Linked DNA regions of Homo sapiens: all the other regions are linked to region 1. The links come from fine-mapping of genetic effects on gene expression. A gene starts in region 1. Each other region holds a variant in brackets. All regions are shown on one strand. Distances are from middle to middle.

Region 1 (4,247 bases):
GGTAATGTCAAGTTATAACATATTTTAACTGCTATCATTTTTCAGATGGTCTCTTTTATTTCCTACTGAAGTCTTGGCCCAAAAGGGGAGAAAAAGTCAAAAGAAGGGCACATAAGTATGCCTCAAGTAAAGCATGATACAGAAACCTCTCTTTAAACTATAACAAAAAAAAAAAGAAGGAAACATCTAAAAATCTAAATGGTTTGATTCAATTAGTTTCCTTTATATTTTTTATTTTAAAGTAAAATAACTAGGAGTATCTGCTAAATGACTGCACCTTAGCTTTATACAAGCAAGGTGCTTTTCTCTTAAACATCACAACAGCTCTCTCTCAATAATCTGTAGAAATGGAGTACCAAAGTGAAATTCGTTAAGATGTAACCTCTGCTGTAATGCATTTTTCACCAAAATGAAGTCACTTTGTTTATACCTTTCTTTAAAAACCAGTTCTATGTCTGGTGAAATAACTAGCAAACAAGTGGCCAACAGACACCAAACAAAAGTTAAGAAGTGACAGAAGGATCTGCACATGATATAGCACCCGTGATAAACAAGGAGACTCATTCTTCCTACTTTTTCCTAAAATATTATTTAGATTTATAAACACCCTCACCAATTCTTAGAATACTGTTGTGAATCTTTGGTCACAAACAAATGAGCAGGAGAGAGATGATAAAGTCATTTGTCCAAGGTTAAATGGCAAGAAAGTGTCCAAAATAAGATAAATCAAGGCTTTAGAAACAATCAATTTAAAATGATTGTAAAAGTAAAAGGGCTTCCTTCTTATCCATCTGTTTCACCTCACAAATATAACCAGACTAGGGTGAAACAATGTGGCTTATACTGACATGAAGATTTTTACAAAAATACATATAGTAATAAACTATCAAAAGATGTATCTTTACTGTAATAAAGCTAAGTCCAGCGTTACAGAAGTTGTGTATGGTAATCTCAAAATCACATTCAAGCATTTACAACCATCACACACACACACAACAAAAATGGGAAAGGAAATGGAACCTTAGCTTATGTTTTTCCCAGTTTGTTCTTTTTAGTTCAAGAGGCCCCTAAAACAAGAAAATTATAGATAAAATACCAAATGAAATAAAGTTTAGATTAAGTCACATTCAAAAGCTACAGGAAATCCTACAAAACGTAGTCTATGTCAGCTGGCATCTTACCATTCAAGAGAATTCTAAATTAATGCCGCACATAAATCAAGAAACAGGAAAGCTTACAACAACACAATGGAGTCACCCCACAACACACACACGAACAAATTAAATGAATACCTCATACTTTCTGGTATTTTTTGAATAATCAAAACTTAGGTTGAGAAATACCCATCTGTAAAGATCTATCTACTATAACCTATTTAAGAACTGTTGTAACAAATCTATTTCTGCTGCACTGAACAGATATTCCCACTATAGCACTGACACTGACTCTGATAAATTATCGAAGGACAATAGTAAAAACATCAGTTTCTTTTTAAATGACCAACAAGCCAACTCCATACAAAATCTGACGCGTCTGTATTTCAGCTGTTCCGCGGACTACGTTTCCTTGATCACAGCAGCAGCAGGCGACTCCCTAGCCGTCAGGGCTGACTTAGCGCCCTCCAACTCCCCGGGTCCGGGTTACCTTCATCACTCCATTGTCAAATCGCACTCCCACGCCTCGGTCCTCAGCCCCCATCCTGAGACTCTAGGGAGAGTCGGAAGTGGGAGAGAAATCCCCTCACCCACACTCCCTCACTGTAGGCTGTGGGTGTGTCGGTAGACGAATGCCTTGCCCAAACACAAATCGTCTGCGGAGACCCAGACCCTAAGTCACCACCGAGCCAGAGATAACCGGCCGGTCACCGACCCCAGCCTTCCGCGGCCGCAGCCCTTCCTCTTTCTCCCCTCCAGGCCGGCCCCTCCCCCGTTGCGCGCACGCGCGGCCTCCAATGGATCCCCTCCCCCCCCGTTCCCCTCACCTTAATCATTAGCCACCCTCTTCTCTTCCAGGGTCCGGGAATCACTGACCCAGGAAGGAAGACAGAAATGTAAGGCGTAAAGAGTAATGCGTCGAGAGCCAGCGATCTGCGCCTCAGACGTCGGCCTAATAGGCCCCTAGAGTCAAGAACAGTGTCTGTCACCGCCACCAAAACTGTACGTGCGGCAGCGCCTGGACTCGGCCCAGCTAAGCCGGCGTGGGTTCAGAATGCCTAATTTGGTCCCACAAGAACTCCTTCTCTGAAGCTGCGGGCGTTTCTACGCTGCGCAAACCGAACACCTCCTCGCCGTCGCCGCCACTGCCGCTGCTCCCCTACAGCCGCCGCCGCCGCTTCGCCGCCGCCGCCGCCTAACCAATTCCTCCCCTACCGAGGAGAGCACGACACTAGGGCTCTTTACGACAGTTCGGAAAGTGAGAGCGCAGTAGCCTTCACGCCTCCATTAACATCTGTTTGTTTCTGCGCTTGCTCGATTCCCGTTTCTCACCGTCCCGCCCCCTCGGTCCCGGCCCTCCCCCTTTGTACTGGTTTTATCAGTCTGTTGGCGAACTGAAAGGTGTCACAAAGCTCATTATTTAATTTTCTTTGGTGATTATGCGTTCAACATTTAAGCCAAATCTTGACTACATCTTGGTTCATTTTTTCGTAACTAAAAATTAACCAACTACAGAATTGATACATTTACAGATATACGTAAACAAAAACATCATGGGTTAGTGTCTTTCACAACAAATGATACCCATATCATATGCGCTAATGACATAAAGATCACGGCACCTCACTGTTAAAGTGAATTTGCTTCCGGAATCAGATCAAAAGTGGTCACATATCTCCTGCGAACTCGGGCTGTACAATCGCATAAGCCTCCTTGTTTATTTTATAAAAGTCAGTAGATAACAAATGCGTCATTATATGCATTAGGAGGATAGAGAGAGGATGAGCTTCAGAGTCCATCAGGCAGACTTCCTTTCAAAGTCCAGTGGTGCCACTTAAGAGTTCTCTGATTGATGAGATCCTTATAAATCTTAGTTTCCTCCTCTATAAATTGGGATAACGTATTTACCTCAAAAGGTTCTTGTTAGATTAAATGAGACAATTTATATAATGCTCTGAACATTACTTGCCAATTAAGTGTTCACTAAACATTAATTCCCTCCCTTTGCCATCAACTCATCTTTTTCAATACTTTTTTTGTTCACTCATATTTTCCGTATCATTCAGTAAGCAAATGATTTTGGCCGGGCACGGTGGCTCACGCCTGTAATCCCAGCACTTTGGGAGGCCTAGGCGGGTGGACTACCTGAGATCAGGAGTTCAAGACCAGCCTGGCCAACATGGTGAAACTCCTTCTCCACTAAAAATACAAAAACTAGCTGGGCGTGGTGGCGGACGCCTGTAATCCCAGCTACTCGGCAGGCTGAGGCAGGAGAATCGCTTGAGCCAGGGTGGCCGAGGTTGCAGTGAGCCATGATCAAGCCATTGCACCCCAGCCCGGGTGACAGGGAGACTCCGTCTCCAAGAAAAAAAAAAAAAAGGCTGGGCGCGGTGGCTCACGCCTGTAATCCCAGCACTTTTGGAGGCCAAGGCGGGCGGATCATGAGGTCAGGAGATGGAGACCATCCTGGCTAACACGGTGAAACGCTGTCTCTACTAAAAATACAAAAAATTAGCCGGGCGTAGTGGCGGGCGCCTGTAACCCCAGCTACTCGGGAGGCTGACACAGGAGAATTGCTAGGACCCGGGAGGCAGAGGTTGTAGTGAGTGCGAGATTGTGCCACTGCACTCCAGCCTGGGCGACAGAGTGAGATTCCGTCTCAAAACAAACAAACAAACAAACAAACAAAACACACACACACACACACACACAAATGATTTTAAAATTACAATAATGATCAAGGATAGCAGATTGTGTGGGAAAACTAAAAGAGCATTCGACTAGGATTTTCCTCAATCCTCCTATTTTCTCACTCTTAAACATAGAATTTTGCCCGGACTATCTTATCTTCTCCCTTGATTTTAACTGTTACTATCTCATGACTTCTCAAACCTGTATTTCCAGCTCTAACCTTTTTTCTGAAGCTTTTGACCTGTGTTCTTCAATTAGGTAGACACCAGCCATATGTGGCTGCTGAGCACTTAAAATGTGGCTAGACTCCCTCCTCTTCTCCCTCTCCCCTCCCCTTTTCCTTTTCCGTCTCCCTAAAAAAATAAATAAATAAAAATAATTGAGAAGTGCTTTAAGTGAAAA
Region 2 (4,247 bases), 530 kb before region 1:
ACCAAAATACACAACCTAAATTATATCAAGATGAAGCAAACAGGCCTGGTACGGTGGCTCATGCCAGTAATCCCAGCACTTTGGGAGGCCAAGGCGGATGGATCACCTGAGGTCAGGAGTTCGAGCCAGCCTGGCCAACACGGCGAAACCCTGTCTCTACTAAAAATACAAAAATTAGCTGGGTATGGTGGCGCACACCTGTAGTCCCAGCTACTCGGGAGGCTGAGGCAGGGAGAATTGCTTGAACCCAGGAAGCGGACGTTGCAGTGAGCTGAGATTGTGCTACTGCACTCCAGCCTCGGCGACAGAGCAAGACTCGTCTCAAAAAAAAAAAAAAAAAAATGAAGCAAACAAATCTAAACTAGGGATAGTCTACAAAATGCTGGCTGGCTGGTATTCTTTAAAAAGGTCAACATCACTGAGAAACTGATCCAGATTAATAGAGACTAAATAAAGAAACATGACAACTAAATACGATGTGTAATTCTGGATTAGAACCTGAAGGGCCAACATCACTAATTATAGGAAAAATACAAATTAAAACCACAATGAGTTATCACCTCACACCTGTTAGGATGGCTATTATCAAAAAGACAAACGAGTACAAGCATTAGCGAGGGTGTGAAGAAAGGGGAACACTTGTACACTGTTGGTGGGAATGCAGGATGGGGCAGCCATAGTGGAAAACAGTATAGGGCAGGGGTATCCAAACTTTCAGCTTCCTTGGGCCACACTGAAAGAATTGTCTTGGGCAATACAAATACACTAACACTAATGATAGCTGATGAGTGATTTAAAAAAAAAAATCACAAAAAAATCTCATAATGTTTTAAGAAAGTTTACGAATTTGGGTTAGGCTGCATTCAAAGCCATCCTGGGTCGCATGTGGCCTGCGGGATGTGGGTTGGACAAGCTTGGTATAGAGGTTACTAAAGAAATTTAAAATAGAACTACCATACGACCCAGCAATCTCACTACTGGGTATATTCCCAAAAGAAATTAAATTACTGCCTCATAAAGATATCTGCACTCCCCTGTTCACTGCACCATTATTTACAATAGCCAAGATATGGAAACAACTGAAGTGTGTCCATCAAAAAATTAGTGAATAAAGAAATTGTGTATATATACAAATGATGAATATTATTCAGCTTTACAAAAAAGGAGAGCCTGCCATTTGTCACAAATGGATAAAAATGGAGGACATTATGCTAAGTGAAATAAGACAGATACAGAAAGAAAAATACTGCACGATCTCATATGTGGAATCTAAAAAAAGAAAAGGAAGGAAGAAGGGAAGGGGAGGGGAGGGGAAGGGAAAGGAAGGGAAGGGAAGGGAAGGGAAAGGAAAGAAAGGAAGAAAGAAAAGAAAGAGAAAGAAAGGAAAGAAAGAGAGAAAGAGAGAAGGAGGGAGGAAGGAAGGAAGGAAGGAAAGGAGGGAGGGAGGGAGGGAGGAAGGCAGGCCGAGGCGGGTGGATTACTTGAGGTCAGTAGTTTGAGACCAGCCTGGCCAACACCATGAAACTCCATCTCTACTAAAAATACAAAAATTAGCTGGGCCTGGTGGTGCACATCTACAATCCCAGCTACCCGCGGGGCTGAGGTATGAGAATCACTTGAACTTGCGAAGAATAGGTCGCAGTCAGCCGAGACTGCACCACTGCACTCCAGCCTGGGCGACAGAGCAAGACTCTGTCTAAAAAAAAAAAGAAAAGAAAGAAAGTCAAAAACATAGAGAATAAAATGGTGGTTGCCAAAGGTGGGGCGGAAGAGGAGGAAATGGGGAGATGCAGGTCAAAAGATACAAATTGCTGATATGGAGAATGAACAAGACCAGATGTCTAATGTATAGCATGAGGACTGCAGTCAATAATATTGTATTGTATTTGGGATTTTTGCTAAAAGAGTACATTTTCAGGTGTTCTTGCCACACACACACACACACACACACACACACACACA[G/CAG]ACACACACACACAAATACCTGTGAGATGATACATATGTTAACCTGCTTGAATACAGTAACTATTTCACTATGTATATATATATCAAAATATAAACATCTTGTTGTATACCTTAAATATACACAACAATTTTTTTTATTTAAAAAACATGTAATTAGAAAAAAAAAGACACTAGACTGGAAAAGGGTTGCTATAAAGGAAATAATGGCACGTTGAAAATTGAATATTAAAAAATATTTCATTGATGATACATTGTATTAAAGTTATTTATAAGAGAATATCCTTGTTCTTAGGATATATACACTGAAATAATAAAAGGGCAACCAGGCAGCGGCTCACACCTGTAATTCCAGAGCTTTGGCAGGTCAAGGCAAGAGGACTGCTTGAGGCCAGGAGTTCCAGACCAGTCTGGGCAACATACTGAGGACCCATCTCTAAAAAAATTTTTTAAATAAAAAAATGAGCTGGGCATGGTGGCACATGCCCATAGTCCTAGCTGCTCAGGAGGTCGAGGCAGGGGGCTCACCTGAGCCCAGGAGGCTGTAGTGAGCTACGATCACACCACTTCACCCCGGCCTAGGCAACAGAGTGAGCCTCTGTCTCATTCTGTCATTTTTTTTAATTTCCAAAAAAATGGAAATAATAAAGGGGTAAAAAGGCATCATGAGGCTAGGCCTGGTGGCTCTTGCCTGTAATCCCAGCACTTCAGCAGGCCGAGGCGGGAGGATCATTTGAGGTTGGGGGTTCAAGACTAGCCTGGCCAACATGGTGAAACCTTGTTTCTATTAAAAAAAAAAAAAAAAAATTAGCCGGCCGTGATGTCAGGCGCCTGTAATCCCAGCTACTCAGGAGGCTGAGGCAGGAGAATCGCTTGTACCCTGAAGGCAGAGGTTGCAGTGAGCCAAGATCACGCCACTGCACTCCAGGCTGGCAACAGAGCAAGATTCTGTCTCCAAAACAAAAAAAAAAAAGGAAGAAAGAAGAAATATATTGTCTTTGTAATAAAGAAAATGGCTTTATTTTTTAAAAGGCTCAGATGCTTTTCATATTAGGTGCTAAATATTAACATCCTCAATGGTATGTTAAATAACAATACATTCCTTCAGGGAATGATGCGAGGTTAAACATTGATGAAATATTCAAATACCATATTTTAATAGTCCAAAGACTAAGAAAGAAAATTCATTTTTATCTTTACAAGTTCTCCAATTCATATATTTAATTGTAGCTCCTATAAATAAAATAATAAACATTTGGTGGTAATAACAAAATTATTCTAGGGATAACTAGCACTTTTATTTCCATGTGGCCAAAACAGAACAATTTCATAGAAGAAAATTCATGGAATCATACAACTGGAAGAAGCTAGGAGAGAATTTAGTTCCACTTCTCACACTACAGGAACGTCTTCTTCCTGACCACAATCAACCAGCCTCTACTTGAATATTTTCTGTAACAAAGAGCTCTCAAGCTCCGAAAGCCATCAGTCTTTTAGGACTCATTAACTTCAAGGTACTTCTGCCTCATATTGAGTTAAAATCTGTCTTCGGGTACCTTCCACTTAGTGGTCACAGTTCTGTATTCCTGAGTTCAGAGCGTAAATCTAATCCCTCCCATATATGACAGCACTCAGAACTTGAAATCAGTGCTAATGTTCTCCTCTAAGCAAGTGTGAATTAATGCGCCCTGCTGACCTGCCAGTAGAGGAAAATCATTCTTTGCCAGGGTGGTACTGTACTGCTAGCACTATAAAATAAGCCCTCAAAACCCCCTCAAAGATATGTGCTTCCTTCTGAGACATGTTAACCTTGGCTATGAACAGAAAAGAATTGGCCGATGGTGCTGAAGAAAATGTACCTCAGTTGCAGGCTAAGCAATTTCAGTTCTGTTTGCCTGTCTCTCACGGTGGCTCTTTATATAGCTGAAATTCAAACAGCATTGTAGCTACTTAGAAAATACAGCACAGCTACTCAGAAAATCAACTAAGGATATTTCACGGTTATTACCATTAGCCAGGTTCATAGGTAGTTGCAGGGGATACTAATTAATAGGTTTTAGAACAAACAGAAAATAAAGCACGTGAGCTGTTCTGGTTTTGGCCTACCAGCATTAACTTCTGCTTTCATTTCCTTGATGTTCTGGTTCATCTGTAACTCCAGCTTGGTGATTCGCCCGTGCATCTTCTCCTCTTCTTGCCTTGTTCTCTGACCATCAAAAGTCTTCTTTTGACCCTCTTCTATTTTGTCAAGCCTGGCTGACATCTGGCTGAGCTTCTTCTCCATATCC
Region 3 (4,247 bases), 75 kb before region 1:
TGATTTTACAGTACCCAAGAGTAAGGATACCCTGCTCCTATGGGGCTCAAAGTACCTAGCTAATCTCTTCTGGGTCAATGTATCAATTAGGAATCTTCTGCTTGTTTACAAATAAAATAAAAATCCAACCAAAACAGCTTAAATAATAAAGGGAATTATGGGTTCACATAAATGAACCTGGGTAGGGGGGTGCTTCAGGCTCTGCTTGGTAAGATTCAGCAAATTTCCCTAAAATTCTCCTGGCTCTGCCCTCTCTTACATGTCTTATCCTGCCTTTCCGGATTCTCATCTCTTCAAGGTCTGTGCTCTAACCTCTGTTACACAGTAGCTCTAATCTAAATTTCTGTATATTCGTTTTTTCCAAGCTGCTAGTCTGGCCTATGGGGGCTAATCTCCCAAACCCTTTTGTAAAGGTTCTTAACCTGGGAACTAGAATTCACGCGTCTGTGAACTTGGACGGAAGAAAAATACAAACTGACACTAACCTCTAACTGCCCCTAGAATTATGTTAAATATTGTAATTTGTAACAAAAAAACAAAGTCGACAAATTATTTCCTTTTTTTTTTTTTTTTTTGCGACAAAGTCTTGCTCTGTCGCCCAGGCTAGAGTGCAGTGGCGCAATCTCCACTTACTGCAAGCTCTGCCTCCCGGGTTCACGCCATTCTCCTGCCTCAGCCTCCCGAGTAGCTGGGACTACAGGCGCCCGCCACCAAGCCCGGCTAATTTTTTTGTATTTTTAGTAGAGACGGGGTTTCACCATGTTAGCCAGGATGGTCTCGATCTCCTGACCTCGTGATCCACCCACCTCGACCTCCCAAAGTGCTGGGATTACAGGCGTGAGGCACCACGCCCGGCCAGATTATTTACTTTTTAGAACAAATAATAGCAGTTCCAAAGTCAGTTCTATAATTATGTTACTTTCATTCACTTGTATTCCAAATGTGTTGAATAACCTGGTCAAGTGTTAAAACTAGCATATCAGGAACTGACCATGATCAAAAGTCTTTTAGGGCTATGCTGAACCCAACATTAAGTAACTGTTTCCTATAAATTATAATATGTATAGTAATTACTCATTATTACAGTAGCTTTACTTGCTACAGCATTTTCAGGGTTTTATCTTAGTCTCTATGTAAAAGTGTTATACAAGTCAATATCATTTATTGTGTATTGCATCAGGAAAAAAAGGTTGAAAACCTTTGGGATACTAAGCTCACTCACTGGGATACGCTAAATTACCTTCATGGTTCCTTCCAACTCTGACACTTTAATTTTACAAACCAAGTTATTTGAGGATTACGTTGACTCTAAAAGTCAGGGTATGAGTTTGTAACCATCACTAAAGTGATGGATATGACATGTATCTGTTCAGAAACAGCTTGTCCTCTTTTGCCTTCGAGCATTTTGAATATATATAGTCCAGAACCTCTTTGTTTCTCAAACAGGCTTGCATCCAAAACTAAAGACAACCAATTAGCCTCTCATTCGAGAGTTACTACCCAAATAAAACTGTCATAAATTAGAGGTGAAATACAGAGATATATGATTCAGTAAATAAAACACTTCCTTTTCTATTAAAATTAACCCATAGAGGGCCCACTAAAAATGAGACAATCATGAACCTGCATTAGGGAAATTAACTCCACAACCCAGGGACAATAATTTGGTTAAAGTGCCTCCTAGGAGTGCCTTCAGTAACTCTAGCAGGATTATCGAGAGGCAGGCATGAATTACTCATTCATTCAACAGTCTTACACATAATAAAGTCGTGGTAAAAGATCTACAAAAGGCACTGGATAATACAAAGGTGAAAATGAAAGTCCTGGCCTTTAACATAACTTACGGTATGGTCTGCTTTTGCTGTTTTTATCTCTAGCAACCAGAAACATGCTTGCACAATGTAGGTGGCTCAATAAGCACTTTCTATATTTAATTTCAACTCACAAGGGAAAAGCAGCATGCAATCATGTAGCTAAGCGCCAAGAAGAGAAACACTTGCTCTTTGGCCCTTAAGGAAGCTCATCATCAAGCATGGAGACAATTTAGGATACAAATCAACCAGTATTAGAACAGAAACACTGGGTTCTAGCATAGCATAAAGCAATGCTGTCCCCAGTATCTGGCAATGCCTGCAGACATTTTTGGTTGTTACAATTGGAAGGGAGGTGATGTTACTGGAATTTAGAGGCTACAAACCAAGGATGCTGCTAAATATCCTGTAAGCACAGCCTTTCCCCACCTCCCACTGTAAGAACTATCTGGCCCAAAGTCAATAGTAGTGCCAAGGTTGAGAAATCTTGGCATAAAGGGGAAAAGTAGAGGTACCACGCCAGACTGCCTAGGTTTGAATTCTTGCTCCACTATCA[T/C]ATAACCTTGGATATGTTACTTCACCTGTAGAATGAGAAGAGTAATAAAATCTGCCTTACTGGTTACTGTAAAAATCAGAGTTATTATAGGCAAATCCACCGGCCAACACTATAGGCTCAATAAATGTTAGCTATTGCTATCCACTAGAGGGTAAGCTCTGTTAGAACAAAAATTTATCTGTTTTGTTCCCACTGCCTAGAACAGTGCCTGACATATAGTGTGCCATCAATAAATATGTGTTAAACAAATGAATATATAAGATATCATGTAGGCATAACACAAGGACCACATGGAGAGGTCAGACAGATAATGAGCTGTTTGTGGCACATTGAGTTTGAACTGACTGCAGAACGGTCCAGGAGAGATGTCCAAGAAGCAATTGGATATGAAAGTCTAAAATGGCCGGGCATGGTGGCTCACACTTGTAATCCCAACACTTTGGAAAGCTGAGGCAAGTGAATTGCCTGAGTCCAGGAGTTCGAGACCAGCCTGGGCAACATGGCAAAACCCTATCTCTACAAAAAATACATAAATTGGCCAGGTGTGGTAGAGTGTGCCTGTAGTCCCAGCTACTTGTGGGGCTGATGCAGGAGGATCACTTAAGCCTGGAAGTGGAGGCTGCAGTGAGCCTGCACTCTAGCCTACGTGACAAAGCAAGACCCTGTCTCGGGGAAAAAAAAAAAAAAAAAAAGAAGTTTAAAACAAATATAGTGGTCAAAAAACACAGAAGAGAGAGTCATCAGCATACTAGTGATAGGTGACAACACTTACAGTTATGAAATGGGCTAGTGAAAGGGGGGATGAGAACACAGTCCTGGGAAGAAAATGAATTATGAAAAGGAGACAATTGTCAGATTTTAAAAGATCATGTTTATTCATTATGAAAGGAGTCAGAAGCCCATTAGAGGAAAGAGTTTAGTGTGACAAAAATACACTTAAATGTACACAGACAAAAACAAGTGTACATGTGCATGTACTAAGGAAATGAAACCAGAGAAGATGCCGAAGACACAAGGAAGATAACAGTTAAAGCAAGGTTAAGGACAAAGGAAAGGATAAGAGGTAGAGCACAGATAAAGGAACTGGAAGGGAAAGGAAGGAGTTAGGAGACTAGGAATTAGTAGAGGAGGACAGGTAGAGAGCCACAAAAGTTTATATGGAGGCATTGGAAGTTGCAGGAGTTCATGCTTAAGAACTTTCATTTATTCATTTTTTTAAAATTTCCCCTGGGGAATGAAAACCTTGAGGAAAAGGAGAGTGTTTTGAAATAGGCACTTAGAGGAACGAAAGGGAACTGATCAAGACAATGGTGATTTCCTACAGAAAGCCCAGGATTCGAAACCATAAATTTACGGAGGAACTTGGATAAGTGTGAAGCTAGATGGCTTGAATGTGAGGGTTGGAAATATTCAAAAAGGTACAAGATAAGGACGGGTTGTGGAGAACATAGTTGAACTAATGTTCCATAGGGTCCTGGAAGGAAATTGACCTTAAGAGAGGCCCATTTAGGACTGTAGCCAAGATGCTCAGAAATTAAATCTGATTTGTGAATGAACAAAGATTTATATATAAAAGTTTTTGGAATATTCTGAAATAAAGTTGGGACTGTATCACATAAAATGTACGTAAGAATAATGCTACACATAGGCCGAGGGTGGTAGTTCACACCTGTAATCCCAGCACTTCTGGAGGCTGAGGCAGGTGGATCGCTCGAGCCCAGGAGACTGAGGCCAGTGTGGGCAACACGGCAACATGGCAAAACCCCATCTCTACTAAAATACAAAAATTAGCCGGACGTGGTGGTCATGCCTGTGGTCCCCCATCTACTCGGGAGGATCACTTGAGCCTGGGAGGTGGAGATTGCAGTGAGACAAGATTG

Direction of the effects. Alleles are on the strand shown, and positions count from the first base shown. SD is a standard deviation of normalised expression in the study named. Not every link is listed here.
With allele G in place of CAG in region 2, the expression in neutrophils of the gene that starts at base 2,387 in region 1 is lower (moderate effect, 0.47 SD a copy in BLUEPRINT).

Evidence for each region. PIP is the estimated chance that this variant, and not a neighbour inherited with it, causes the effect.
Region 2: its variant is the best candidate, but not a certain one, in a credible set for the expression of RNF111 in neutrophils (BLUEPRINT, PIP 0.69).
Region 3: its variant is the best candidate, but not a certain one, in a credible set for the expression of RNF111 in whole blood (TOPMed, PIP 0.60).

The regions. Positions count from the first base shown.
Region 1 is chr15:58,985,803-58,990,049 of GRCh38, reverse strand. It overlaps RNF111 (ring finger protein 111), which reads right to left and starts at 2,387. Exons shown (of 14, transcript NM_017610.8): 1 at 1,982-2,387. RefSeq lists a silencer at 1,504-1,668.
Region 2 is chr15:59,516,659-59,520,905 of GRCh38, reverse strand. It overlaps FAM81A (family with sequence similarity 81 member A), which reads right to left. Exons shown (of 9, transcript NM_152450.3): 8 at 4,066-4,247. Among named protein-coding and RNA genes, the nearest start is that of FAM81A, 81 kb to the right of the region's middle. The variant G/CAG (reference allele first, on the strand shown) is at 1,963.
Region 3 is chr15:59,060,864-59,065,110 of GRCh38, reverse strand. The region is part of intron 5 of RNF111 (ring finger protein 111); the gene reads right to left. Among named protein-coding and RNA genes, the nearest start is that of CCNB2, 42 kb to the left of the region's middle. The variant T/C (reference allele first, on the strand shown) is at 2,368.